2 linked regions of the Homo sapiens genome follow. The protein of the gene in region 1 interacts with the protein of each later gene in a pairwise test. Each region holds a gene or a part of one and is shown in the gene's direction. Other genes may lie near its edges. The genes, in order: CCDC85A and SYTL5.

Evidence for each region.
Region 2: the proteins of CCDC85A (region 1) and SYTL5 interact in binary tests that used the Homo sapiens proteins (3 or more experiments, as listed by UniProt).

Annotation. Positions count from the first base shown.
Region 1 is NC_000002.12:56,365,077-56,381,146, forward strand, and holds part of CCDC85A (coiled-coil domain-containing protein 85A), read left to right. Parts: intron 1-7,267; coding exon 7,268-7,402; intron 7,403-10,739; coding exon 10,740-10,859; intron 10,860-14,673; coding exon of another isoform or gene 14,674-14,772; intron 14,773-16,070. UniProt on the Homo sapiens protein: May play a role in cell-cell adhesion and epithelium development through its interaction with proteins of the beta-catenin family.
Region 2 is NC_000023.11:38,003,494-38,019,563, forward strand, and holds the start of SYTL5 (synaptotagmin-like protein 5), read left to right. Parts: upstream 1-3,059; 5' UTR 3,060-3,175; intron 3,176-16,070. UniProt on the Homo sapiens protein: May act as Rab effector protein and play a role in vesicle trafficking. Binds phospholipids.

The DNA of each region.
Region 1 (16,070 bases):
TCTGGGCCTCATATCCTGTGCTCACATCCTTCTACTACAGGAAGATAGAACTAATTTTATTTTCCTGAACATGTCAGCAGCCTAAGATTTTTGGTTCTCTGAATTGAAGCTGCTTACTACGTCCACTGTGACTCCACAGACATCAATCTCAGCCATTATTTGGCATAATAAATGAGGGGTGTGTGAATTAATATTACTTTCATTTGTTTATTAGGATAGATACACATTTTATGTAATGGTTGCAGCCACAGTTATGTGCCTGGAGTGGAGAAGGTCAAATGAGCACAGAGCTGATGTTAATCTGGTGTGTAGCAGTTCATCTGTATCAGTTATTCATATTAACATGCTTCTAATCCAGTTCCTTCGAAGGCTGCTGAGCTATTCCAACCAATCTGACCCTCCCTAGGATCATCTGGATCTCTCTGTAACCCAGGAGCCAAAGAATGAGTGCATAGACTAGAAGGAGACTTCTGGGACCCAAAGAAGGAAAAATCACTCTGGGGTATAAATTACTGAAAACATTACCAGGCCCACAGTTAGTATCTTTAAAAAAACTTTTTTTACATTTATAGATAAAATTACATCTTTACTGTGTACAACATGATGTTTTAAAGTATTAGACATCGTGGAATGACTTAATACAGCTAATTAACATATACATCAGTTCGCATAGTTATCATTTTTGGGTGAGAACACTTTACATCCACTTTCTTAGTATTTTTCAAGAATGCAATAAATTATTGACTATAGTCACCATGCTGTACAGTAGATCACTTGAAATTATTCCTCCTGTCTAACTGAAATTTTGTATCCTTTGACAGACATTTCCTTCTCCTTCCCAATCCCCTCAACTCCTGGTAACCACCTTTCTCCTCTCTAAGTAGAAATAAACTTTTTTTTTAAGATTTCATATATGAGTACGATCATGCAGTATTTATCTTTCTGTGCCTGACTTATTTCATTTAGTGTAATGTCCTCCAGGTTCATCCACGTTGTGACAAGTGACAGGATTTCCTTCGTTTTTAAGGCTGAATAGTATTCTGTTGTATATATAGATAGCACATTTTCTTTATTCATCCATTCATGGACACTTAGGTTGTTTCCATATCTTGGCTATTATGACTAATGCTGCAGTTAACATGGGAGTGCAGATATCTCTTTGACATACTGATTTTGTTTAATTTTAATGTATACCCAGTAGTGGGATTGCTGAATCATATGTAGTCCTACTTGTAATTTTTTGAAGGAACTTCATACTGTTTTCCATAATAGCTATACTTATTTGCATTCCCACCAGCAGTGTGCAAGGGTTCCCATCTCTCCATATTCTTGCCAACACATCTTTTGTCTTTTTGATAATAGTCATTTTAAAAGGCATGAGGTGATCTCATTGTGGTTTTAATTTGTATTTTTCTCTTGATTAGAACTGTTCAGCATTTTTGCATAAATCCTTTGCTATTTGTATGTCTTCTTTTTAAGAAATGTCTATTCAGGTCCTTTGCTCATTTTTCAATTGGGTTGTTTCCTTGCTATTGAGATGTTTGAGTTATTTCTATATTTTGGATATTCACCCAGCATTTTAGGAACTCACATTAGCCAGTTTTATTAATCTTTTAATGGACAGCACTTAGGGTAGTGCTAACGTGGTAGGAGCTTAGTGATTGAGAGCTGTTATGTCAAAAACAGGCCCTCAAGAAGTCCTCTGCCTGCCGAGGAGTCTGTACATAGGCTACAATCCTTCACCACATGTGACGCAGAGAGTAGTCGCCTCCTGGTCCAGATTTCTCCTTCTTATTTCTTTCATCTTTTATGATTTAATCTCTCTTTTATCTTTTTATCTATTTAATCTTTTGCCATTATCTTATAATGCTTTCATTAGCACTGAGATGTGTTTCATGTGTCAGGGCCCCCACTTCTATTTGCTGGCAATTTTATTCTTTCCTAATGTGACTGCTTCAAGTTAAGTGCAGAATCTTTGCCCAGCAAATTGTTAAGTAAGCTTTATGATCTTCCATAATTTCCACAGAGCCCCTTCTGCCAATTGTATTCTCTATGTGGGACTGGTGTCACGATTTTCTAGGTACTGTAGCATACTATATGTCTCTATCTCAAGAACTCTTTCCTTTGGACCACTGCCCTGTGCCTGCCCACAGCGTATTCTCTTTCTGCTAGTGTTGTTACAGTAGGATGATATGGGTATTTTCAATTCTGTTTCTTTTATTGGAGTAATTTCTTATTTGGGGGTGGAAATGTGGCTGCCTTTATACTTAGACCATTTGAGGGCTGAAGCTTAAGGAGTTTCCTTCTAAATCCTTTCAAGCTCCAAATCCTGTGGGCAACATGTCCTCATATGCAAAATCTGCTATAGAGCTGTCACCAGAAATTTTGCTTTGTAGTTTCCCAACATAGTTCTCTTTCTCTAAATCAGGGTTTCTCAACTTCAGCTATAGCGACATTTTGGGCTAGATAATCCTTTCTTTGTGAGGGGTCTGTCCAGTGCATTTTAAGATATTTGGCAACATCCTTGGCCTCTACCCACTAAATGCCAGTAGAAACTGCATAGTTTTGACAAGTAAAAATGTCTGCAGGCATTTTTGCCAAATGTTTTCTCTTGGGGGCCAAATCACCCCCGCCCCCAATGAGAACTGACACTCTCAATAATAAACATTCGGACATAAATTGACAAGTTATAAAATATGTTGACAAGCAAAGCAAAAACATTCATGATAAGGACAGCAAATGCTTATAGAGCACTTATGTGGGCCAGACACTGTTTTAAAAGCTCTTTCCATGTAAGTTTCCAAGCCCATAGAGTGACCGTACCATTTTACCATTATTATTTACACTGTATAGATGAGGAAACTAAGGCACAGAAAGGCCATATAGCTTGTCCAAAGTCATGCAGCTCATAAGTGTCAGATCAAGAATTTAAACTCCGGCACTGCGACCCTGGAGTCTGTGATTTGAACTCACTGTGTTTCTCTTTCAACAAAAATTCGTTGGAATAGGTATCTATATGGCATTGCATGCAATATCACGTCTGATAGTTACTAAATTAATGTTTGTTAAGTGAATAAATGAATGACTATACATCCAGGAAATTACTTATTATTTTACATCAGCATTGAATAGATTCTTTAGTTAATTTAAATGAAAAATGCACTTTTCTTTGGATATAACCGACTAAATATTAACATTAGAGTAAGGCAAGAGGGTCTTAGCATTTCTAAGCCTATGCACAAGAATCTCTTGGAGAGGGTTTGCCAAGGTGACCTTTAAAATCTCTTCTAATCAGAGCTTTTATTTATTTGCTAGGACAGTTTTACAATATGTCAGAATGAAGATTGGCCAAACTGAACAAAATATTATTTCCCTGATGAGATTAAGCAAAGTATCTGCCTTGCCCTGTAATAAGGGAAAACTGAATTTATCCTCCCCCTTAAACTAGGCATACACTCTGATGAGGTATTAAATATTATATGATAGTTTAACCAAGTTCAGGAATTATAAAAAATTAAGCATCTTTAAGTAACAGGAAACCACTTTAGCTGATCAATCTTCAGGCTTCCGTAGTTGGCCTTCTATAGTGAATGAGAGGGCTGGGGTCTCAAATTTGTTATAAGTGCATTACATCTGATTTATATCAAAGTGAGAAACTATTTTATGTAACACTACAGTATTACTCTATTGAATGTGAGTTTTAGTCAATTGGAAATATTTATATAGTACATATATATTTTTATATATACACATACATATGTACATATATGTATATGTATATATTCAATAAGAAACTCAGTATATTTGTTTTCCATTTTTCTGGCGTGCAAACAAAACTTTTTTTAGGAAGAATTTTCATTAAATTAAAAAATTTCCTTGACTTCATTACTAATTAAAACATTATAAAGGATTTTTCTAGGAGCTTTATTTTTTAGGTAATTTTCCCTACTGCAGAGATCACACATCAAATTCTGAGTGATCATCGTTTTGTGATTCATGTATTTTAGATAACATATAATATTGGACATTTCTTAGTGTTTTTCATTATTTCTATGAGGAACAGTAACACTTAATTCACGCAAATTTGAGAAAAGAAACACGACAGTGTAAAAAAGTTAAATGGTCTATTTTTTTGCAAAATTGGTTTTTATTCCCTTCATTTACATATATAGCTCATTGTGAGCAATAAGGGAAAGATAAACTATAATGTCTTAGAGAATGTTGTACGTCTTTAAATAAATAGATGAGAACTATTTATTATTAGAATGGTCGTAGTTTGAAGAGAAAATGTTGCAGATGTAGTTGTTCAAAACTTCATGTTGATTTCATGTTTAAGTACAGAGAATTTTATACCCTGTTGAAGTTTGAAGAACTAACCAGAATCTGACCCCGAAAGTCCTGAGGACTAAAGGCTATGACTCATGCTAAACCCATGCAAATGTCCATATGTGAATTCATTTGCCCATCTTTATGCCTTTCAAAGTCAGCAAGGTAAAAGTCTTCAAGTCAGGCTGACTTATTCTTCTTAGCTTAAAACATAGGTCACTTCATACTTTATTACTGAGGTTTCCAACAAATAGTTCTTGGGGACTTTTTCTGTTCATCATTCAAGAGGAACCTTTATGTGTGTCTGAAGTTCGCTGAGATGCCTGGTGAGTGAGAAGTACAGTTCGGATTTCCCATTTCCCCCTTTTTCTTCTTTTCAGTACTTGATTTTCACTCTTCTTTCCTCCTCACAAATTTTTGAAATACTTCGTTTTCTGAAAAACCCTACACTATTACCTCTATAGAAGTTTCCAGAGTTTTCAAGGAATAAAAACTATTGACTAGTACAGTTATAGCGAAACTTAAAGAGACTCAGTGATTCATACTTCTTCATATTCTTTTATGATTTCTGTGAGTACTTACCACAGAGTAAGTAATCTATAATTTACTTCTCACACAATGGGAGTGTTAGGGTCATTCAGGGATTCTTTTTCACAAACTTGGAATTTTAGAAAACTACAGAAAACAAAACTAAGTGAAACAGAATTCCTCAGAAAATAGGAAGTGACGATCTTAAGACTGTTTGGAATTGTTCTCCCAATTAGTGACCAGAATCTGAGTTCCACCATTTTGAGCCCCCAAGTTGCCAGAAACAAGTTTAACGACTGAATTACTGAAGGCTTCTTACGTTTTATGAAACTGTCTTCAGCAAACACTGTAATTGGTGATTGTAGGCCCTGCGAAACACTAAGCCTTCATTAGTGTATAAATACCATTTTGATGTAGTTTATTTGAAAGTTAATGATGATGGCTGGCCCAGAACACACTTTTCTATATACCTAGATTAAAAAAATATATATGCTGACATGGGGAGAAAATTAATTAATCCTGGTTCTAAAAGAGTGCCTTTTCCTTTAAAATGGTTATATCATCAGTTTATTCTTCCACAAAGATCTGGCCCCTGTTTATTGTTCCCCCTTATGAGATTAATAATACTATAAAATACATATTTAATATATTTTAAAGGAACATTTTATAATACTTAAAGTATAGCTATTGTTTTATGTAGTATCTACTTTCTGAAAGTTGGAAATTATTGTGAGTTCTCTACATAGTAGCTAAATGGCGCTCATGCCAGCTGGCTTCTAAGTTGGCATAGATCCTACCTTAGATTTCATGGGTATGATGATAAGCTTTGTTACAATGGAGAGGAATTGGGATTTAGCCTTGCTACACATTAAGAAAGAATGAAAGTAGAATGCCTATATGTTTTACTCAGTTGTTAAATCCAAAAAGGATAAGATCTGAGAGGTGCATGTTATGGAAATAATCAAATTCAGATACTAGATCTCCTTATTTGTAAAAATAATTATAAAATTTGCATTACTCATTAATGATCATCTCAGAAATAGAATTATGCAGATTGGGGTGGGAGGTGAGTATTAAGCTGTGAATCATGTTATAAATTTTTGGAGATAATTCTTTTGATGATGGAAACAAATTAGACACTACACATGGACTAATTATCAAAAGAGCAATGTTCAAATTAATGTTGCTATGATGAAATTATCATTATGACCCAAGTGCAAATATATAATTGCCTCTGTTATACGTGAGAAGTAGAGTATGTGTGACTTATTTTTATAGGTCACTGGTGCCAATTTAATAGGTTCAGAAAAGAGTTTTGTGAGTACCAACTACTGGTCATTATTTCTTCTCTTTCTTACTTCACTTAAGACCATGGTGCATTTTCTTTTTTCAACCTCCAAAAGTTAGAGAAGAGTGAAAATTGGACCAGTACTATTCAGATATAGGCCGCTAACTTCAAAAAAAATGAATTGATGAGAATTAAAATTTTATGTTCTTATTTTCAGTCTTCTAAAGTCAACCTCAACATTTAGACACTAGAATTTTGGGACCATTTTGCGTATTTTCCATAATTAAAATTATTAAATTATTAAAATTATTTTCTTATTCCTTGGGACATTATATTCTTAGTTATAGGTCTCTGTGAAAGTTGGCAGGAGAGGAAATCATGTTCTAATAAGTTCATTTTGTTTCTGATCATTTTAATAGGATTATACAGTTTGGTGATGGAAAAAGCTAAAATTAAGGACTTTTTTCTTTTCAATTATGTGATGCCTCTAGTTCTAATAAATACATAAAAATTTAGTTAACTTATGAATACAAAGTTTGATGATTATGTAGATTTTTCTATGTAAAATATTTATTTTAATGCAGTGATGACCTTTTAGCTCATTACATTCTCTTCAACATGCAGAAATTTTGTTAAAAATTTGATGCAGTTTTAATTTTCTCAGTATTATTGAATATGTATACCCAAATTTCACTTCTTAACAAAAGGGCATAGTGCTCCCAATTGTATTTCAAATAACTTTTGTTAAGTTCTGAAGTTATGTAGTTTATTTCTGTATAATATCCAGGTAAAGCATATTATTATTTTATGCTGGTAAAACCCATAAAATAAAGTTGTTTAAATACCTTCAAGTTTTTTCTGTAATTTTGACTTTATCGTCTACTTTTTGATAGAATTTATAATGTAGTTATATGTTTACCAGAAACTTAAATCAGGATTAGGTCTAATATGTAGGACTTCAGATTGTTTTTATTTTTATTTTTTCCCTAGCTACAGGTGCATGTTACAGCTTGCCATTGTGGTCATTGTGGTTCATCTCATTAAGCTTCATGTTCTATCTGCTTTCTTGAGACTTGGGAAACAGTATTTTTCTGAGTGATTGTACCATATTGTTCCAAATATAAGGCCAGCCAGAATAGAAGGCAACCTCCAACTAGAAACAGCTCAAATATGGAGAAAGGCTGGGGGTCCAGAGCCCGGCGGGTCTTGCAGTGGTGGCAAGGGTGCCGAGGAATAGGACGATGCCTGCCTACTCTCCCGGTGAGTGAAGATGAGTCAGCTGGATGCATTTGCTTGTGCATAACCAGATGACTTCTGTTGCTAGAGAAAAAGTTATACTGGGGGGTAGAAAACAAGTTCATACACATGAAAGAAAGTTGTATGTCTAAGTCTGGGGAGGGAGGATGGGAGTAGAATTTTTCACCTCCTAAACAGTTTTCTTGTTTTTTTCCCCCACATCTGGGGGTGAAAGTTGAGCAACCGCATGCAGGAGAGAAGAACAAAAGTACCCTGGACATTTCATGATAAAAGGAGTTTAGGTCAGTGGTCTTGAAAATCATGTCTCTAGACAAGCTCAGAAAAGTACTCCTTTGCCCTTTAAAATTGTCTACTGACTGAGAGGTGATGCATGCACTGTGTGATCATGTGTAGCTTGAAAACAAGCCACTTAATCTGGAAATCACATTTCCAGTTTTAGTAAGATTTTTCTCTTTTTAAATTCCCTGTTTGGCTCAGTAGCATATTTTTTTAAATAGTTCAGTGAAAATGTATTAGTCGACTGAGAGTATATGTAAATTGAACCCTCATAATTCTCCAAATATTGGTCTGATTCTGCTAAGCGCATAGAAAACTAACCTTTTATTTTATAGTACTAAATGAGATATAGTAGAATGAGGTGCTTCATTCTGTTATTGCAGTCTAGAAAAATTATTTAACATCTGTTGGAAGTAAACTTCACCAGGCACTTGGTTACCTTTGTGGCTTCACAAAAACAAAATAAAATATAAGCCTTGATCTTTCTGGTTGATTTGTAGTCCATGGCTCCCAAAGCTAGTTTGAAGTATAACATTCATCCCTAAATGATGAATTTCCCCCCACTGTATACTCCAGGCAAAATACTATTGTAGCCCCCATCCCATTTTTTAAAGAAAACTACTTTCATAAAAAAAAAAAAAGTGTGTTTTTTAATAGATATGGCCAGAACAGGACTTTGTTTACATTTAAACAATGGAAAATGGCTCAGATGATTTGGTTTAAGGATGTTGTTTACATTGATTTTTAGAAGTTCTCTGAAACCAAAATGCCCTGAACGATAGAGGCCCATGCCCAAGCAAAAGGATGGTATTATTGATACGCTTATCTTTTTACCAGGTCTGGAAAGAGAACATTTGAAGCAGAAAGGCTGGGCAGAAAAGGATTTGAAAGTAAAAACAGGAAGGAAGTAGCTCAGAGTGGGAAGGTTTATTGCCTTCTAAATTAGAGGAAATATGACTTCTAAGTCAGAGGAAATATGGCACTGCAATGGTGGGTCCTAAACAAGAGTTTGAAGCGAATTCTGTATAACCTGAGAAATCTTTTGAAAAGCATTCATAAGAGTGGTACCAGGAGGAAAAGAGAAGAGTAGAGGACCAGGGTTACTCAGGAAAGAGGAGCTTCCTTTTATAACTCCTTAATTTTGGAACCATTTGATTCCAAAGGATCCAAAGTATAGAGGAAGAAGATGTCCAAAATATGAGGGTGGGTGAAGGGTGTGTCCCTTAACCATCTTTTAACTTCAGATAATTTCCCTTCCATTAGATGTATTAGGCATTATTGTTTCTGATTTGATCTGGTTTATAAATACAGGAAAACAAATGTTTTAATTTCCTTTCCCACAGGGGATTGGGTCTGTTCTAATTGACAATCCTGTTTCATCACCTGCTGTACATTTTAGTTTTAGTAGCAATGGAGGACAGAAACTGAGGAAGCCACGTACATGCCATATTCTACTGCTTCCTCTCCTTGTTGGCCAGTGAGGCTGGGTGCAGGACCTGACTGGATTATAGAACTCTTTGAGCAGGGAAAAGAATGTGGCCTCAGTAGGCTAGTGAGGTGGCAGGGGGAGCCTTTGAGGACATAGGAGAAATGACAGCAAGAAAGAAAGGGAGAAAATCTTCCAAATTGCAAAAATAATAATCTGCAATAATAACATTAAGTTAATAATAATAAACTTTCCTTATAAAGCATGGTTTACATGTAATCCATACCTATAATTGCTGGGTGCAGTTTTCTCTTCTTATCTCTAAAATGTACAGCATAAAAATTCTCTTGGCTGAGCAGGATTGCTCATGCCTGTAATCCTAGCACTTTGGGAGGCTGAGGCAGGAGGATCACTTGAGGCCAGGAGTTCAAGACCAACCTGGGCAACATAGCAAGACTCTGTCTCTGTGAAAAAGATAAAATGTCACTAGGCATAATGGCACATGCCTGTAGTCCCAGATACTCAGGAGGCTGAGGTGGGAGGATTGCTTAAGCCCCGGAGTTGAAGGCTGCAGTGAACAATGATCGTGCCACTGCACTCCAGCCTGGGCGATGGAGAGAGTCTGCAAGTTAATATTCCAAACTACCGTTGTTTCTCTCTTTATGAATTCTCATGATACACCTTCAGTGACTCCTCTTCGGGGTGTTAGATTGATAGAATCAACTTGAATGGAGCAATTACTAATCAATTAGACATGAAAAATTCTGTAAATAGGTTGATAGGCAGAAATTAAAATTTCAGGTTCTCTAATAGTGTAATGATCTACATAAAAATAGATTTGGAAAATTCCCATGTGACTGCTTTTTCTAGGAGAGTAGATAACTGATACTCTCTTTTTCTTTACTGATCCATTAGTCTTCCCCCAAGCACCCTTTAGAAAAAGTACAGATCCTTAGGGGAAATTTCCAGTGCTTGTACAGAAGAATGTGGCCTGCACATGTCAAATTAATCATGTACAGGTTCTAGTTTCTCACCAATTAAGTTGAAGAACCACTAAACTAAAAATATGTAGTTTATATCTATTCTGTTTTTCATCTTTAAAAAGAGCAGAAAAGATCAATTTTCAGTTTTTAAAGAAAACGTTGAATTTGGATAAATCTTTTTTGAAAATGCTTTATTATAGGTCTTTCCCTCAAAGAAGGGTTTTATAAGAGACACAGTTTCTCCAACACAAGAATGTGATGTGTCTGCATATTCTGAGACATATGGAATATGGCATTTGGCTTGCTGAGTGAGCATGTTTAACTCAGCTATGGAGTAACTCATGAATTTCCTACTCTTAAGTATCTTTGAGTTTCAAAAATCATTCTTGAAATGTGTTTAAGGGCCATTCCTTGGGGGTGGGGCATTTCAGAGATGGCATCTGACAATGTATTGAAGTGGCTCTTCTTTATGTTTTCTTGCTGGTCAAGCAGCAAGTGTGTTCCAATGAACAGATTGATAGCATTGTAGACTAGGTTAGGAAAAAGTAACAAAATGGCTAATTCTCATTTGGTAGTGAAATTGAATATTGAATGACATCTTTGTAGTTATAAACGACTTTTGTTTTAATAACAAAGTTGTTGATTTTCTACTAAGGGTTCTTTTAGGTTGTCATCAGGGGCTGATGGGAGTAACAGTTCACCCAACTCTGCAGCTAGCTTCAGTGGACATGCCACACCTTCCCAGCAGCCTGAACCTGTGGTACATTCTCTTAAGGTAACCAATCGTGTGCAACCATTTATCCAGAGCTTCAGTTGTGTCGTCGCTTGTTCGCTGTAGTCTAGTAGTCCTCACAGTCTTGCTTGAACCATAGATATTTTATTTTTTGACTCCTTATGGTGTAACTTTTTAAATCTTAATTTTTGAAGTATGATTTTTATTGTTCTAAACTGACAATGAGTTTGAGTACTTATGGTTGAATCTCTAGTTTTATCGTTTTGTTTTGAGAATGTGATTCATATCTATCGGCATCGAAGTTACAGTCTGTGCATGTATATCCATATTTGTAAAAAATTGTGATAGGTATTTTATGTGCAATGTTTGTAGCGTGGATGTCTTCAAATATAGGAAGTTAATAGTTGGTCATAATATGGAAGGATACCACAGTATTCTTTCTTGATGCAATTGAAGTACATTATGCAACTTAAATAAAATATTGAAATAAATAAAAACCTACTCTTTCCTCTTCTAAGTAGAAATTGGGTTCTCAAACTCCAGTTAATGCCCCGTTATAGAATAATAGAAAACAGATATATGGTGTTATACATAAAGCTACTTTACTTTTGTGTCTTCCTTCACATTTTGCAGTGATTTCACAAAAAATTGCCTAAAATTTGTCATCTATTTTCTTTACCAATAATGAGCTTTCCAATAAGTAAAACTAATGAAAAATCAGGACTATAGGTACAATTAATAATAAATAAACAATATAAATATTTACTTATCTCAAAGAAGAAACTAACACAGGTGATAAAAATCATCTTACAAATTGAGATGGTTTCTTGAAATTTTATCAGTTTCAATGTATGAAGCACTGTCTAACAAATCTATCTATAATTTCTAACATGTAGCTTTGATCAAACCTTTCTGACCCATAAAACAGGTAGAGTGCTTCCGATCTGCTTTTACCATGTGAGTTTCACAACTCTTCTTAAAATTGTTTCAATTTCAAAATGATTTATCATCAGCCTGGAGATGCACTCCTCTTTTGGAGTGGGCCACACTTTCTGTGGCATGCACAAAACAAATACATAGATGAGAACTTCAAAATGTTTATTTCACTTTGAGATGATGAAGTTTTAGCAGAAGATTTTGCTCCCTCAGGATATTTTGCTTTAGCTTATACAAAATGAATTTGCTTTTCCTAAACATATACTGATTATTGATGAGGGAAGGCAGGGCAACCATGCTAGTGGCCACTGACAGTGCACTTGGCATTTTCTGTCTTTGTTGGAATAATTCACAAAGTGAGCAACTGAGAGGAATTCCTGGGAAGGCACAGCCAGTGTGAGGGGGCACTGCTTTGCCTCTAGTGGGTGTTGGTTTATGGACTGTTGAATATCTTGTTCTCTGTGGCAGCACTTGGATGAACTTTAGCATGAATCAGGCACTAGCTATCTGAAAAGCATTTTAAAAGTAGAAAATGGACCAGAGATTGGCTTCAATCTTGTAGTATTATAGCATCTGCACACACTCCAACAGCAGCAACTTGTCCTCCTATTCAAACTGTTTGAAAGCCATTTCAGCCTGTTGCCTTATTAAATGGCAATTGCTATTTGAATCAGATCAGCATAGTGAGTCACACTGAAATATTTTCCAGATTTCTCAAAGCAGCTGTTAGTGTGGCCTAAAAGGAAGGGGAGGGCAAGGAAGAGCTCCTCAATTTTCTCTGAATTTAGTTCTAATTTTCATACAAAATTTTATCTCTGGGAGGCCAAGGTAGGCGGATCATGAGGTCAGGAGTTTGAGACCAGCCTGGCCAACATAGTGAAACCCTGTCTCTACTAAAAATACAAAAATTCAGCAGGGTGTGGTGGCAGGCACCTGTAATCCCAGCTACTTGGGAGGCTGAGGCAGGAGAATTGCTTGAATCCGGGAGGCAGAGGTTGCAGTGAGCCGAGATCGTGCCATTGCACTCCAGCCTGGGTGACAGTGTGAAACTCCGTCTCAAAAAAAAAAAAAAAAGATATATATGTTTCAAGAGAGGGAGATTTTATGTTATATTCAGTACACATAAGTGTCCTTGGTTGGCAGATGAGTGATACTGAGCAAGTGAAACATCTTTATTAGAAAACTGGGGACCCTTGAATATCAAATGTTTTTACTTCCATGAGTTAACTGTGTTAGGACACAGAAATATGTACAAACATCAGTTTTGGGAAATACATCTTAAAAAGATTTCATTATAAGAAAAAGAAATTATGGCCACTTGACATGTTTTGTTTTTGAGAGCCAGCTGTCTAGAGCTGATTTATATCATGAGATATGTCTATTGTGAAAAGAATAATTAGTACAGTGGCTCAGTTTCTCACTTTCTGATAGATTTTATAGAAAACGCTAGGCTTTATAAAATCTGTGGTCATGGTTTGTGGGAAATGTAAAGCACTGTAAGAAATTAGTACATTTGTGATGACACTATATTCTTCTTGTTTTAAAATTTATGATAACTATTAATTGGAGCTTTACTTCATTTAGTAAAAATTAACTGATTTGAAGTACACTTCTCTGAGGTGCATTACAAATCAAATTTGTAGGTAAATGAGCTTGCTCAAGGAAGGAGCTCTTTATGTTTTCTATGAATATTCACCAAGCACAGTCAGTGATTTTCTCTAAATATGTAAAGAAGGTAAATTAACTGTAATCTGAGGTGAGTATCAGGGCTCAGAAGTGGCATTTTTATAATAATAATGGCTAGACGTTTCAAATTAATGAGTGTAGTTTGTGATCAGATTATTTATTACAGGATCGAACTCTAGTTAGATTCAGATAGTGTCCATGAACTTGACCTGAAGGTCCCACTTCATGCTTAAGTCATTTAGTTTGGCTCAATTGGTGTAAATTCACAGGTAGCAGATGTGAACATCAGCATTGTCCGTGATGACAGTAGAATCAAGTAGCTTAGCAGTGTTGCAGTTGGTGTGGATTCTATAGGAACTTCTAGGGAGAGCATTAGTTTTTTGTATTACTTCAACACTTTGATTTATAAACTGATATAGATAAAAACAACAAACAGCACAGAAAGCCAAAGTTATTTTCTCCTTTTGTAGTATAAAAAGGTACCCACAATAAAACTTTAGACATTTTTAAAGGAATATTATTTTCAACGTGTTTAGGGCTAATTTAGAGAAGTGGAAACATAGGCCTCTAAAATTGTTTAAAAGGCATTTTATTCCAAGACATTTTGCTTTCATGAAAAATATTTAAAGTGTTGTTCAAATATTTTCACTATAAGGAGCCAGTGCTTCTCTTTGATACTATCAAAGAGCCACCTCCACATGCCTTTTCTTAGGCACTGGGAACATGTCCAGGCAAGAACTGCGAGGTCAGTAGTTCTTACGTGCATATTCCTGGGTTTTGACCAGTTTCACCTGTCACTATCATCTTTTTTAGTCATCTTTTATGCAGGCCATGTCTACATATCATTTGGACCATTTGGCACATAGTTAATTATATTGGTCATCATTACAGTGGAGCAAGAGTTATTGACTATATCCAAATTGTTGATACAGTGAGATTATCTTAATGACCAAAGTAAATGCATATACTTATTTTAGACACTAATGAATTCCATTGATTATTAGTGATGCAATGGATTGCTTTTAATGGCCATTTGAAAATCAAATAGAATCATTCCAAATAGATTTCAGAACAATCAGCTATTTAAAAAATATGTTTCCATATGCTAATCCACTCTGATATGCAGACATGGAGAAAACTAAAGGTTTTACAAAGTGGAGCTCCTTGATGGTTTTATCATAACTAACAAGCTTTTTTCCATGTGAAATTTGCTTTTCTTTTTCAACAAATCCAGGTCTTGGATGTTCAGGAAACTATAGATCGTCAACAGGGTAAAGAGTATGAACATGACCTTAGTGAGACAGAAAAAGCTATAGTCAGAGAAATGTGCAATGTAAGTTTAATGTGCTTTATTGTGTATTCTGTGTTGAAAGCCACATCGTAGCTTAGCTATTGTTTTATGAATATTTTTAAAATGCTGACCAAATGCCTTTATGTTTTTATATGAAAATAAAACCAATTTCCCTTGTTTTTATTTTCAGTATATTTTATTGTAGTTTTATTAATACAATCATGTTACAGAATATTCAATTTAGAGATGATCAGCCAATTCTGTATTCCAGAAGACTCTACAAACATTTGCTAATACTGAATTTACTGTCTAAAATATGTTTCTAATTTCGATAAAATAAATGGGTTTCTATTTTATACTTCTAAGAAGTTTGTTAAAGATCAGTGTTTAAAAACCTATGATAAAGAAAATACAGCCACCTTTAGATTTACTTGTAACTATTCTTGGAAAAAATCGCCACCTTACTAGGTAATTTTGCTTAGTTCTTCATATGTCATATATGTGTGCTTCATGTCATGCGAAGTATTATCTTTAGCTTTCAGTTGTTGACCCAAACTCAGAATATAGTAAGGTAAGAAAGACAGATAAGAACCTAAAAGATAGTTAGGCCAGGCACAGTAGCACACACCTATAGTCCCAGCACTTTGGGAGGCTGAAGAGGGAAAATTGCTTTAGCCCAGGAGTTTGAGGCTGCAGTGAGCTATGATCATACCACTCCACTCCAGCCTGGGCAACAGAATGAGACCCTGTCTCAAAAAAAAAAACAACAACAACAGGATAGACAAATAGAAATCTATTCATGAAGTCAGAGACCACAGTAAAAAAATAAATAAATAAATAAATAAAGATATGTTATTTTCACGTGCATATTCAACGCAATCATTAATATGGCTTGGATTTTTACTATTAATCCCTGACTAAATTTTAATATTTTGAGTAATATACATGGGATGTATCATTTAGTCAATAATATAAATTGTGAGGCTTTAAATAGCTAAATGGAATATTATAGAGGAAGCCATTGTTAAATGCAAGAAATCATGGTTAAGCACTGGTCATGTTAAACACTGATTTTAATTGGCTTTACATTATGCTTTATCCTCATATTCTTTTCTCTATCCTATCAGGATGTGAAAATTGCTTAGAAATACCCTTTAGCTTTAGATCTATTAGGACCAGATATTCTCAGACACTTACGCATCAACCTCCTCGAGGTGTTTCTGGAATCCAGTAAATGTTACATAAGTCCCCTGGGCATTTTTTATGTGCTGGAATGAGACTTGTAGTCTCTTGCTTGCCTGTGTTGTGGCTGATTTTTCTCTTCCCACCCTTCCTAAGTT
Region 2 (16,070 bases), on another chromosome or scaffold:
AAATACCTAGGAATCCAACTTACAAGGGACGTGAAGGACCTCTTCAAGGAGAACTACAAACCACTGCTCAATGAAATAAAAGAGGATACAAACAAATGGAAGAACATTCCATGCTCATGGGTAGGAAGAATATATATCGTGAAAATGTCCATATTGCCCAAGGTAATTTATAGATTCAATGCCATCCCCATCAAGCTACCAATGACTTTCTTCACAGAATTGGAAAAAACTACTTTAAGTTCATATTTTGAGTTTTTAAAGGAACCTTCAAACTGTTCTCTAGAGTGGTTGTACTAATTTGTATTCACACCAACAGTGTACAAGTGTTCCCTTTTCTCCAAATCCTCACCAGCATTTGTTATTGCTTCTCTTTTGGGTATAAGCCATTTTAACTGGAGTAAGATGACATCTCATTGTAGTTTTGATTTGCATTTCTCTGATGATCACTGATATTTAGCACCTTTTCATATGCCTTTTTGCCATTTGTATGTCTTCTTTTGAGAAATGTCTATTGAGATCCCCTGCCAGTTTTTAAATCAGATCATTATATTTTTCCCTATAGAGTTATTCGAGCTCCTTATATATTCTGGTTATTAATCCCTTGTCAGATTGGTAGTTTGCAAATATTTTCTCCTGCTCTGTAGGTTGGCTCTTCACTTTGTTGATTGTTTCCTTGCCATGCAGGAGCTTCTTAACTTGATGTGATCCCATTTGTCACTGTTTGTTTTGGTTGCCTGTGCTTGTGGGGTATTACTCAATAAATCCTTGCCCAGTCAAATGTGCTAGAGAGGTTTCCCAATGTTTTGTTTTTGTTGTTTCATAGTTTGAGGTCTTAGATTTAAATAGTACAATCGCATGGAGAACCGTTTGTAGGTTCCTCAAAAAATTCAAAATAGAGCTACCATATGATCCAGCAATCCCACTCCTGAGTATATACCCAAAAGAAAGGAAATCAGTATATTCAAGAGATATCTGCACTCCCATGTTTACTGCAGCACTATTTACAATAGACAAAATTTGGAAGCAATATAAATGTCCATCAACAGATGAATGGATAAAGAAACTGTGGTACATATACACAATAGAGTGCTACCATCTATAAAGAAGAATGAGATTCTGTCGTTTGCAACAACATGGATGGAACTGAAGGTCATTATGTTAAGTCAAATAAGCCAGACACAGAAAAAAAATTTTGCATATTCTCACTTACTTGTGGGAGCTGAAAATGAAAATAATTGAACTCATGGAGATAGAGAGTAGAAATATGGTTACCAGAGGCTGGGAAGGGTAGTGAGGTGCTGGGGGGAAGTAGGGAGGATTAATGGGTACAAAAATAGAAAGAATGAATAAGACATAGTATTTCTTAGTACAACAGGGTGACTATAGTAAAAATAATAATTTAATTGTGCATTTTAAAATAATGAAGACAGTATGATTGTATTGTTTGTAACACAAAGGATAATTGCTTGAGGCTATGGATACCCCATTTACCCTGATGTGATCTTTATATATTGCAAGCCTGTATCAAAATATCTCTGTAACTCATAAATATATACACCTACTATTTTTCCATAAAAATTACAAATAAAAAATCCTAAAACTCAGCCCTTACAAGATCTGCAGGGGAGACAGAATTTGTAGGTTGATCTCCCAAATTCATCAGGCTTGGAAAGGACCTTAGACTTTCTGCATAACTACATTAGCAAAACCAAACCAATTCTATGGAAATGCCAATATTAATAGAACAAATATTAATACTCCTCAGAGGGAGATAGCAGAGTCTTTACACTATATGATCCCCATTGTCCAATATGCAATAAAAAAATTCAACATGCAAAGAAACAAGAAAATATCACCTATTGTCATAAAATCAGTAGAAACAGACCCAAAAATGTCCAGTTGTTAAACTTCATAGAAAAAGACTAAATCAATTATTATGTATTCAAAGAACAAACAGAAAATAGGTTCAAAGAATGAAAGGAAAATATGATCTTTATAAATGTACAGATAGTGAATTTCAGCAGAGAAATGGAAACTATAAAAATAACCACATGGAAATTTTAGAGCTTAAAAAATTATAGTAACTGAAATTAATAACACACTAGATGGGCTCACATTAGTTTGGAGATGGCTAGCATCAAATGAGCTTGAAGACAGATCAAAAGTAATCATCCAATCTGAAAAAAATGGAACAAAACATGTATCTCTAAACTTTTTAAAGGTGTTGTATTGACTTCTTTTGTATGAGTTTTTTAACATAAGAAAGTAATAACTCTCTTGGTACTTCAAGCTAGACTCACGTTTTCGATTCTCCAGGACACCACCTTTGGGGTTCCCCACTGTAGCTAAAAGGGACCTGGCTATGGTAACATAAATGGGTAATCACCTTGGCAGAAGTGATCTTAACAAAAATTTCACTTACTTCAACTAAAGATTCAGTACCATACAAGCACTGAGAAAACCTCACTCATTCTCTAATGTTCAGCTGAGCAATCACATACTGTTACACATTTGTCTTCTAAAAGTCATACATACATAGCACAGTGCTATGATTAGATACCTGGACTATGGTTATGGAGTGCCTGGATTTAACTTTTGACTCCAGTACTTACTAACTGGGTGACTGTGGGCAGACTACTTAGTTTGTTCATTTGTAATATGGGGATAATAATATTATACACCTAACACATTTGGAGAATTATTGGAGAGGATATATGTAAAGCACTTACAACAGTGCCTGGCACATATGTGTTCATTGTTATCACGTTTCTCCCAGGTTTTTTAAGAATAGAGATTTTCAGGGGTAGAAGAATATTAAAAGAGTGAATCACCTTTAAAACACTGGTGTAAAAAATACCTCATGTCAAAAAATGTTTAAAATGTGCTTTAGATGAAACCTGTTACCTTTCCCCTGCTGATCAACAGAGACATTCCTTTTTGAAAGCTCAGCTTTAGAGATACTGCCTTCTTCTTGAAATAGCTGTCTGCAACAGATAAACATTACTCTGTGCTACTGGGTGTGTTCAATGTGTAAATAGATTGTGGGAATATGAGAGGCTGGTTTTTCAAGTTCCTGCTCCAAGTAGTTCACAAGGGTCAAGTAGTCCAGCATTCTACAGTTTGTGTGTTTGAGAGAAAAATAAGCCCATAAAAACATTCTAACCTTCAGATTAAGGTAAGACTAATGCGTTTAGGGATCTCCAGTGTGATATCTGATTTCTTAATTTCTGTATTTTGTGTGTGGTAGGGGAGTAGTGGGATTTGCTGGTCAGGAAGAAAACAGCTCCTTCCACCATTTGATATTGTATTTTACAGTAAAAAAGGGAGAAATATGTACAGAAGGGACATTTTGGCCATTGGTAGCTATGAGTTTAATGGATTGAGGAGAGAAATATAAGTATCTTTTTGTTATTAACACTTGATTCTATCTATGAAGTGAAGCATTGCACTAGGTTCTACTGAAGAGTGAGTGCCTCCAGGAACAAATATGCATTCTAGTGACATAAAAAAATCAAATTCACAGCAGAAGTGTTGCATCATTTTGCTATAAATCTCTCACACCTCTCTATATAAACCTCTCACATCTCTATATAACATAGATTGTCCTTTTGCTCTGAATTTCTTTCATTTATTAGAAAATTTAGATGTTTCATTTGGAATTATTTAATTGTTTTTACATTCAGTTCCATTTTTGATATGGACAAATATCCAGTATGGATATAAATTCAGTAGAAGGATTAATAAAGTCTGAAAAACCTGGAATAATTTCAACATGAATATGATACTGTAACAGCTTACAGAAATGCGATATTAACTGTGAACATTAATATACTCTGAAAAGATGCATCAGGGTTTAAAAAATTTCTCCTTAATGTAGATTGTTTTAATTACCAATACTGTCTTCCTCATTTAAATGAAAAACGTAATTTTACAACTATTAATATATAACTTCTCTTTGCTCCAAGTATATGTGTATGCCTGGAGAAAAGCATATGCCTGGAGAAAACAGGAGTTATATATTTATAGCATTCAAAATAGTATAAAATATTGTTTACATGTAATAATGCATTTAGAAGTACTACTTCAGTAGTAGCCTCCTTAAAAAGTATTTTAAACACAGGAATTAAGTATATAATTTTTTCATTTTGTAATAAGTTGTTTATATGTTATTTGGACAACAGCTTACACACAAAAGTGTTACAATTCATACCCTAGGTCTTAAATGCATGAAGCCATTTGTTTGGACTCTAGTGAAATCCTTAAATTGGTCCTTGCATCCCTCAGTATATATATGTACATACCCACATATACATGCATATTTACATGTGGGCAACTAATAACTGAGAAAATGTCTTACTGCTCTTTTAGTTGTTGAATCATGCTTTTTCTATGTATTTATGATTTCCTGAAATTCTTTGCTATTTTAAGTTTGGGTATTAGCTATGTTATCCTTCTATTTATTCAGATTTGTTAAAGTCTTCTGATAGGTTTAGTGAATAAAATTATTGAGCTTCTACCTCTTTTCTTTTGGAGGCCCATTTAGTATTTTTGTTGAAATTACTTCCTTATTATTATTTAGTATGTTAAGGGAAGGAAAAGGAAATGTAGCTTTAATATGTAAAATGAGCAGTTCGTTTTACTTAAGCTCTATTATATGATGATGTATCTTATGACTATTTTGCCATCCTGCGTAAGCACTTAGCTAATCATCTTTAATACATTCTACTTAAAATCTACTTGTAAATATGCTTTTGTACATTCATATCTTACTTGTCTGTGGTCTCTCATCCTCTTTCTCTCTCACCCCTCTATATACATTCACACATTTTCCATGATTTCACAAAACTTCTCTCCAACCTCGTTCCATTCCTGGTTATCTCTTTCTGTGGGGAGTATCATCATTTCCTTTGACCTCTGTTTCTCTACATCTTCCATCTTGCTTAGCCCATGGACTTTTGATTTTACTGAAGACAGCAAAAAAGCAGATGGTGCTTCTGTTACTTGCAGAGTTAGCAACCGCTGTGGTTACCTTAGGTTCTGAAAGATTATCTAAAATAGGGAGGAGCTCCTAGAGGAACAAAATATAATAAACATGTAGTGTACTGGGATAAAAAATTCACTTGATCTGGTCTCTCTCTCCTTTTAACAAAAACATTTCTCTAAGAAGTGATTAATAAAACATACCCTACTGCCTCACTTTCTCTTTTAAAATCTTTCTTTCAAATTCCCCTATGACATAAAATCAATCTTCATCACTTTATTGACACTGTACTTCCAAGGGTCACCTGTAGTGCTGCTAGGAAATTCAAGTACATTCATTTATTTATGTATTCATTCATCCATTCAATAAATATTTATTTAGTGACAGCTATGCATCAGGCATTGCTGAGCACTGAAGTTACAGTAGGGAACACTTAAGTCTGCCTTTATATATCTCCAGTCTAGTTAGGAAGGGTGTTAACTCACCCAAATAATTCATTACAAGTGTGATAAGGGCTATAAGGAATACTTTTCCAAATTCTCATTTTATTCATCCCCTTGGCTCTATGTGACACACATGATCAATTCCTACTTCTTAAATTTTCTCTTTCCTTCTTGTCCATGACTCTATACTATTTATTCAACTGCTTTTCTACCACTTCCCTTCTTGTCTATTTTTCCTTTTCTCTTCCTTAAGTTTGGGTTTCCCTCAAAGGTTTAGCATTTATTTAGCCTATAACCTATTACGTTTTGCCTTTCTCTATAACTTCTTATCAACCCTTAGTTTTAAATATCACCTCTAAGTGGATACCTCCAAGACTTCCATTTCCACATCTTATCTTTTCCATCTGCTATACATTTTCCCACTTGTATGTCCAAGGGTCACTCGACATTCATCATGATTGTAGCCAAACTCACAGCTTTTATGTCAAACCACTTCCCCTTTCATTTCATTTGTTTCTGTGAATGGCATTAATGATCTCTTGGTTTCTCACATTTGAAATCTTGGAGTCAATTTTGCTTCTAACTTTTCCTTTGCTCTCAATATCCAAACCACTACCAAGTCCATTCATTTCTTTAATTATAATGTATCTAGAAGCCATCCTCTCTCATCTCCCTTTTCTGTTATTTTTTTCTTTTATTCTCTATTTTCTCATCCTTTTTTCCCTCAGTCTAAGAGCTACCTACAATTCAAGGTTTTGGTCAGGCCCCATCTCCATCAGAAAGTCCACACCTCATGGATATCTTCTTTTTCTAAGCCCCAGAATCATTGGGGTAGTGAAAAGAACATAGCCAAAGAGCCAGGTTTAAGTTTTGATTCTACCATTCACTGCCCCCTGTGCACTCTCTGTGAACCACAGTTTCCTCAGACTCATTCTATCTCATATAGTGGCCACAGGAACAAATATAGTCATGGAGAGGAAATCATTTTGAACTATGAAGAACTATATAGATATTAAAGTAAGATTTGTTGCTGGAAGAATAACTCAGTAGCAGAGACCAAAACCCCAGGTCTTAACTATTGAAATCATATTGTGCAGGGGTTGAGAGTGTTGACTCTGCAGTCAGATGACCTGAGTTTGAATCTCAGCTCTGCTACTTACCAGCTGCATGAAATTGAGAAAACTTAGTTAGCTTTCCTGTTGCTGAGTTTCCTCACTGTCAATTGGGGATAACAATAGTTTCTACTGATAAGAGTGTTGTAGGATTAGAACGTTTAGTAAATGTAAAATACTTAAAATAGTGCCTAGCTCATAGTAAGTGCTCTGCAAATGTGGAAGAGGTGGTAGGGGCCTATGAGGCTAAGTGTGGTTACGAGGTGAAAGCCAGGTATTAGAACTGAGCCACCAGATGGGGATTAGGTACAGCAAGGATGCAAGCACAGAGCTACAGACTGGACACATGTACCTAGATGAATCCCTCATGATTCAGATAAAAAAAAGAATGATCTTGCCATTTGGGGCAGAACTGAGCAAATGATGGAGGTATGAACGTTCTGAGCGACCATTCGGGGCACAAAAATGGGGATAACAGTCTTTCAGACACATTTTCTTTTTGTTAAAGAAGAACAAATGTTAGATTGCCCTTTTGTGTTGTGAAATATGTCAGTATATCATGGAATCAAAATGTCAGTATCCAAATAAATGTCCAAATGTTGAGAAAGCTGACTCAACTGTCCTCTATATTCTAGAAATCCGTCTCTTTAACAGTCATATGCTTATTGCATTTCAGAGGACAAGGGCCCTTAGAAATGTCATTCCTCACAATTTATAGGATTATTGCCCAAAGTGTGTATTTTTACTAATACACTTGGAGATTAGTTTGTTTGATTGTTTCATGTCAGAAAGAAAAATAATAATAATACTTAGAATATTCTAAGGGTTGTTCTAAGTGCCTTAAATTTTTTAACTCATTTAATCTTCACAAGAACCTCATGAGATGAACATCATCATCATCAACATCATCGCCACTACCATTTACATAAGAATAAACTGAGGATCATAGAGGTTAATTGGTAATTGGACCAGATTTCAAATCCAAGCAGCCCAGCACCAGAGGCAATTTTCTCAAGCACTGAGTGCTATCATATCAGCAACTCTGTGTTTTAGAATCTGGTTAAAAGGGCATGCTCTGGAGTCCTAGACTGCTGTTACATGTTGCATCTCCAGTTTTCCTTGACAAGTGGTAATAAATGTTTGATATTTTTCATAATTGATAAAAATTACTTACATAAGATTTATACTAAGTAATCCAATGTCCAGTAATGCTGTGCAAGAAGAGTCTGGTTTTTCTCATCCATTATTCTGTATTTGAGCATCAAACAAAGGCCTCAAATACTGATGCTCTCTGTTTCCTAGAGAGTATGTTATACTGCTGGCCGGGCGCGGTGGCTCACGCCTGTAATCCCAGCACTTTGGGAGGCCGAGGCGGGTGGATCACGAGGTCAGGAGATCGAGACCATCCTGGCTAACATGGTGAAACCCCGTCTCTACTAAAAAAAATACAAAAAATTAGCCGGGCGCGGTGGCTGCCGCCTATAGTCTCAGCTACTCGGGAGACTGAGGCAGGAGAATGGCGTGAACCCAGGAGGCGGAGTTTGCAGTGAGCCAAGATCGCGCCACTGCACTCCAGCCTGGGCAAAAGAGCGAGACTCCGTCTCAAAAAAAAAAAAAAGAGAGTATATTATATTGTTTTGCCCTGTACTTAACTGATGTTGTACCCGTGTACTTAACTGCTGCTGCTGCCCGTGGGGATATTTTCTAGGGTATCTGTGAGTTTCCATCTTTGTCTTTGCTAACTATTTCAAAAGTTCAGGCTCAATTTTTGGAGTTGCTATGTTTGTTTTCTATTTCCTATTTTAACTACTTCTTGTTCATTTAAATGTTCTCTCACCGTAGTTTAGTGGGATTTTTTTTTTTTACTTTTCTCTAAGCGTTAGCTACAAAAATAACTTAATAGGCTTTTAGTTCATTTTCTTCTTCACTGAATAAGAATATTAAAATCAAATTTACCTTCACCGAACACTTAATAACTTTTTTCATTTCCAAGAAGGCCCAGTGCCATTTGTAACTCTTGTTAAAGTTTAATTTAGCAGTTTCCAATTTTTGTAACAGTCGACTTATCCAGGCTAATTTGATTTAATATTTCTAACAGAATGCCAGGAAACACTCTGTTCCTACAATAAGAACATGTCTGATTCATTTAAATGAATAAGAACACGTCTGGTTCATGTAAATAGACTTCAGCGGCATTTTTGTTTTGGTGTTGTGCAGTCAAAAAATATTTCCGAGAGAATATCAGGACTTGGAAAGAAACCAAGAAAATGAATACAAAACAACTCTAAGATACATATCATTCTAAAGCAAGTAAAATCCTCAAGACCAAATAATATAATTTAAACAACCATTTAACATTGATAATGTTTACTAAGAATGGAAGTGGTAGACTTTACCAGAAAATATAGTTGAGTTGGGGTGGGACGTGGGGGTGTGCAATAGAGAAACCAAACTTGGAAAGAAGCCATCAGATAATGATGTTCCAGGTTCAAATATAAACTTTAAATCCAAATATACTTTTATCTGGATTATAAAAACGAAAGTTCAGCAACAGCCCACTTTGTAAACACAGAACAAGAGTGATCATATCAAACAGGTTTACTTAATACAAATAGCAGAGTATAGACAAATCCATTAATATATCCCCCTAAGAGCTATTTATGTACAACAATAGTCTTCTCTCCCTGGTGTGAAGTTACATTAAAATCAGTATATGATTAAAATTTTTGAAATTGATTTCATTAAATCAAGTGACATTATATCAAAGATCAGTTTTCAAACAAAGCAGTAAGAGCCTATTGCAAAATAGGCATTTTTCCCAACTTTCAACAGATAATGGTATATCCAAAGATGTCTGTGGCCACAAACAAATGTATAATTTTTAAGTTGCATATTTTGACTAGAACTAGATATGTACTAAAAAACCATTTTGTGATGAAGAATCACTTCCCACTAATTGAGAGACCAGCACAGGGAGAATACTATTGATCTTAAATACAAGGAAGTCCAGACATTAATATGGAAAAAATATAGATTGGGATGTCCTGTTTGCATTAGCCATGTTCAAGAAGGAAGAATTTAATTTGCTTTGAACTACTCACAGCTGCCATCTAATTATTTTTGTTGACTGTTACAGAGTTTGAGCTCCAAACACAGGAAGGTTATTTCTAAATCAGTTATACACAACAACCAAACAGCTATTGATTTTCTTTCAAGTGAATTCCCATCTGACTCTTATTGTTCTTGTGAATAATAGTCATATGTATGGCTTTATACTTAAGCACAATAGGATATAACTAAATATTGGCTCAACTCAGACCTAAAGAGTAGGTTCCTGAACAGTGAGAATATCATCTAGTGATAATCTTTCACTGCTTATACTGGGAAAAATGTTGAACCTGGGTCAGCAAACATGAAATGTAGGTTCAGTACTGCTCCTAATGATAATGCCAAAGGCTCACACTTTCTGAGGATTTACCGTGACTCAAGAACTATTCAAGTGTTTTCTATGTAACCAAGGCATACAGAGGTTCAGTCATGTTTCTCAGAAATTTTAGAGCCAAGATTTAAACCAGAGTTCCTGCTTTGTACCAGAGTCACTTTGGTCAGCTTAAGTAACTTCCAAAGGCATCTTCCTGGGGTATTTTTTCCTGCTGCACCAATTTTTACCTTTCTTCCTGATTCTCAGGCTCACTCAATCTATACTGGTATCTGCGAACCTGTCACTGACCTCACCCCATCTCCAGCATCTCACTGATTGGTTTCCTCTCCATGATCTTTTCTTAAGGGGACCCTGCATTCTTTGGGCCCCTCATCATTACTCAAGGCCCCTAGATCTACTGGCCCCCTCAGTCCTCCTAGTCCCTCAACCACCACCAACTCCTCCTCTCCTAGCTTAGCTCCCCCATTCCTGCTCACAGGAGCCAGGTAGCATCAGGACCTCCCCAATCTCATTTTCCTCTCTACCCTCTCCACACTCTGACTACTGTTTCAGCTTTTATTTCTTTCTTTAGTCAGGGCAATCTGCTCTGATGTCATATCCTACATCCTCTCTACACTGTCATAATAAAACTCTTTTGGTATGTACAAGTGTGTACCCTCCAAAGCAGGAGTGCTGGGCACTGGTATAAATTTGACCAATACAAAATTAAACACACACACACACCTGTGTGTTATGTTGTATATTATGTTATATATAATATTGTTGTGTGTGTACATATATGTTATATGTATGTATATTTAATTCTACAGTATATTATAGTGGTCAAGAGCACAGTCAATAGAGTCAGACCCCTTAGTCAGAATCCAGCTTCACCACTTACAAGCTGTGTAACACTGGACAAGTTACTTAACCTCCCTCTGCCTTGGTTTTCCTACCTGTAATATGGGAATAGTGAAAGTATCTAAATCAAATAATTGATATTGTAAACCAAAAGGTATCTGAGACAGGTCTCAATCAATTTACAAAGTTTATTTTGCCAAGATTATGGATGTGCCAGTGATACAGCCTCAGGAGGTCCTGACGACATGTGCCCAAGGTGATTGGGACACAGCTTGGTTTTATACATTTTAGGGAGCCGTGAGACATCAATCAGTATAGGTAAGATGAACATTGGTTCAGTCAAGAAAGGCGGGACAACTCTAAGCAGGGAGGGGGCTTCCAGGTCACAGGTAGATAGGAGACAAATGGTTGCATTCTTTTGATATTTTGATAAGCACAATTTACAGGAATAGTCACTTATGCCTTAGTCTGGCTTAGTGAAAAAACAGGGCAAAGGAAGCAATCAGATACACATTTGTCTTCTGTGACAGAGGGATGACTTTGAGTTCTCCCTGTCCTTTGTCCACAAGAAATTTCCCTGTGAGAAAAATTGTGAGGGAGGTATGTAGCTTTTTTATCTTTGTAGGTATCTTATTTAGGAATAGAATGGGAGGCAGGTTTGCCCAATGCAGTTCCCAGCTTGACTTTTCCCTTCGGCTTAGTGATTTTGGGGTCCAGAGATTTATTTTCCTTTCACAATGTAAAGATTGTACTGTTCATATATGTAAATCAAGAATTCATAACAGGGCCTGAAACTTGTATATAAGTGCTGAGTGTTCACTATCATTATTACCATGACTCATAAGGAAAAAGCATTAAGGCAAGTATAATAATGGAGCAGGAAATATACATTTAAGTGGAAAATATAGTACAACATGGATAATATGACATGTGTGATTAATTACGACTTGAATAATGCGAAGCATGTAATTATTTTTGGCTTTGCATTTGATATCTGAGGAATCCCACCATTTCACATGAAAAAGTGCATGTGACAAGGAATCTTCCAGGAATTTTGCATTAGAAGTTCCTTTTGATCCTCCTCAAAACCCTGTGAAGTTAGTACTATTATTATCTCCACCCTGTATGAAAAGAAACCAAGGTTCAGAGAGGTTAAGTAACTTAGTTTCTGTAACATAGTAATTGCCAAAGCTAGGATTTGAATGCAGAGCTTCCTGACTCCAAAACCTGACTCTTTGCAATTCTCCACTTGAGGTGTCCATTGGAACCCCATAGGACGTTAAAAAAAATCCATGGAACACAAACTCAAGAGATTCTGTTTTTTTGAAAAGCAGCTTTTGTGAGATATAATGTACATACTGTACAATTCACCCATTTGAAGTGTACAATTCAATGTTTTTTTTTTTTTAGTCTATTCACAGTGCGTTTAGCCATCACCACAATCTAATTTCAGAACACTTTCGCTCTGGGCGGGCATGTCCACAGAATCCCTGGGGTCTTAATTTCAAAGCCACAGACCTTGTAGGAGTCTTGAATGAACTTCAAATGATTTGTGAACTTTTTCTAGGATCCACAGCTTTCACTATCTTCTCTAAAGTGATAAAAATATAAGCCAAAAATGTATTAAGAAACTCTAGACCAGAATGGCCTTGAACTTTAAGGTACAAATCACTGGGGGACCTTGTTAAAATTTAGATTCAAATTCAGTAGCTCTGGAATGCGCTAGGCCTACTATCATTAATTTTAATGATAGGAATGCTCACTTTAAGTTAGATGTTATGTGCCCTAAAATTCCATTCTTCTCTTTAGTAGATCTATGCTATGAAATAACTGCACTCAATTATTATTGTTATATTTTTAATGTCATCGGTAAAATATTGGCAGACATTTATTTTCTTGATTGATGCATACTTATCCACAAAATAGCTATGGTTTTGGCTCTTGGCGCAAAAAGTCTAAAATATTTACTAATTGTTCCTTAATAGAAAAAGTTTGCCAACCTCTAATATAGACCATGGGGGAAAGCCACCTTTAAGGAGCAGAAATGTTGTTCATCTTACTCTCCACAGCTCCTTGCTACATGTGGCAGACATGACATTATCAATCAGACTTATAGGAATCCTAACCAAGTATGAGGGGCAGCAAGCTGGCTATATTTATGTATAACTCCTCCTCTAGAGGAGAAATCTGGGCAGATGAGGGTCAACTTCACTTTTAGTTTAAAAATACATCTCCCTAGAGCTTCAAGCTGCTCTCCTGGGTGATAGCATGGGTGGGTGTCCACAAAAGACCTTCATGCATTTTCAGTTAGGTCATGTCTCTATGATCTTGGAAGCAAGATTCCCTAAGAGTAGTCTGCAATCCATATAGAGAGCTTGGTTAATTGGGTTTGGATGATGGTTCACCAAACGTACAGGTAGAATATTTTATCTTCTTACACTCACCTTCAAGCTACTTACATTAAGGTGTTTGTTCAGAACATTGAACTTTCAAGAGCTGTCTGACCATGCATTTCATATGTATGAAGGCATTTCTGCTTATTTTCCAACACTAACTCACTTTGAATGCTGCAAAAATGATCTATGCTATGTTAATGCCTGAATATGCATGACTTCAAAATTCTCCAGGCTTCAGGTGGTCTCCTGCACCATAAGCCTCTACTGCAGAGCATCCTCTTAGACATCCATCTTGAACTATTTTTTCCTTATGTCTTAGTCTATGACTTTAGATCTCCTAACTAATGGTTGATTTTTCAGCCAATTTTGTTGTTGTTGTTGTTGTTGTTTTTTGATGCGAGAGGTTGCCCATTCTCAAAACCCACTTCCTTCTTCCAACCAATGCCCATTGCTACAAGGCCCGCAACTGTGTTCAGCTTTCAGCATGCTCCAGGGGAACAAGTACAAAGTCTGACCTGGATGGAATTAGATTATGCACCAAAATAATTCCAGGATTTACTAATTTATATCATTAGAAACCTAGAATGTTAGGCCAAGGAAGATGTAATATAACACTGGATTAGGCCAAATGTATTGATATGGTGCATTTTTCAGAGATTCTGGATTTAGTGTGATACTTCTTGCAGCTGGAGGTGTTGTTAACAGTTTACTTGATTGTTTAGTTGAAATGTGAACTTAGCAATGACCTACATCATTGACTCTGTGTGATATACTTGACTCCCAGTTCATTAGACTTAACTAACTGCTCCTCCCATTCTGTTGATCATCCCTCTTCAGTCTCTTTCATCATCTCATTTATTCCTCTTGTCCCTGGACCAAACCGAAGATCAGGCTGCTTATTCTCATGGCCCGATAACGAGATTCAGATAAGCTGGGAAAGAAGGAAGTTTATTTCTGTAACCGGCTATGGCTGAAAAATATCTCCAGACCAACTCAAAATTACAAAGTTTTTTGACTTTGTAATTTTGAGTTGGTCTGGAGATATTTTTGACAAAGAGCTTATATACCTTCTAAGCTATATGTCTACATGTAAGTGTGCATTCATCTAAAGACATAAGTGATTTACTTCTTCTATTCTATAACTAAGATCTGACTCCTAAAGACCTTCCTCTGGAGCCTCAGTAAATTTACTTAATCTAAATGGGTCCAGGTGCCGGCGGTGATTACCCTTATCTTGTCTCCTGCTAAATCATGGAGGTCTGGGGAGTTCCTTCAGACCCCCAATAAACTTGTTTGTGGAGGTCTGGGGCGTTTCTTCAGACCCCCAGTAAAGTTTGTTTTATCCTAAATGGGTCCTGTTAAGAATTCCTTCATTATCTTGCCATACTTCAAGGCCCAGGAAAGGCCTGGGCAAAACTCTTGGTGGGCTTTTGTTACCTTCCAGCCTTTGTATAAGGGCACTGGCTCTATCAGCTTTTAATATTTAACTTCACCACTCAGTCAGTGCTGAAACAGTTGTTATGGAGGCCTGCGTTAGTGAGACCTGGCCTGCCACACTCTGTCCATTCTTTAAATATTGTTGCTTCTCATGATTCTATCTTTTGCCCCTTTCACTTCTCTTCCTGGTAATCTCACTTGCTTGCACAGCATCAACCACCATCCACCATCGAGGCACCAATGATTCCCAATTAAATACCTCTAGTATAGACATCTGATAAGCTATAAACAGTTTATGGGAAGTTTCCTATTCTAAATGCCTTTCTGGACAGGTCTTTGTTGTTGCATCATAAGTACCTTTGTTGTTGCACCATAAGTATCCGGACCTCAACATATCTAAATTGCAATTAATTATTTTTTTTTCTCTTTCAACGTTTTTTGTCTTGTACTCTCCATCACTGTGAACAGTATTATCATCAACATTTCTAGGCTTTACCCCCGTGTTACTGAATCAGGCTCTCTGGAGATAGACACCCAGAAATCTATTTTTAACAATATACTTAGGTATTCTTATGCACACTAAAATTTAAAAACCTTTGCAGTTCCCCATGCTGGAAACCTCAGAGTCATTCTCTTTTCTCTTCCATACCACCCACATCGAAGAGGTCACTGGATCTTATTGAGATTATTCTAAAACGTCCCAAAAGTGACTCTTATTTTCCTTCCCACTACACAGCTTTAGTTCCTAATCTCTCCCTGGCACTTCTGCAAGAGCCTCCTCATTTTGTCTACCTGACCTTTCCCCTGTCTTTCATCCAATCACTGAGTGCTGGTCTTTCAAAAAACAAATAAAAAATTCAAATATGATTGCGCTGTTCCTTGGCTTTAAAGCTTCAACAGCTTGATGGCATGAGAACAGTTTTCAGGCTTCTTAAGGTCATGGAATTCTTTCTTCAAATAAAATCCTACCAGGAAATCTAACTTATAGAACAGATGAAAACGGAGCTGCTCTGTTTGAAGCAGTCGTCGGCGCCACAGGCTTGGCCACTCAGCCTCTTTCGCTGTGTTTCCTAAGAAAACATTCCTGAAGATACAGTTTGAAAAACACTGGATAAAGTCCATATTCTTTGTTTGGATGCCAAATTCCTCCCACTCTGACATCCCCCTTTCTCTTAGCTTTCCAATATTAACCCAGACCCCAGACCTGGAGTTAGTCACTATTTCTTCTGGACTAGTTGTGTGTTCTTATGACTTTTTCACATTTGCTGTCTCTACAACCTAGAATGACCACTTTTTTCTTCCTAATTGTTTTTTCCTTTGTGTTCTCAAAGCCAAAATTGGGATTTATGAAACTGTGATTTTATGTTTATGCTTGTCTCCACTAGAAAATAATAGAAAATAGAGAAGCCCCTTGAAAAC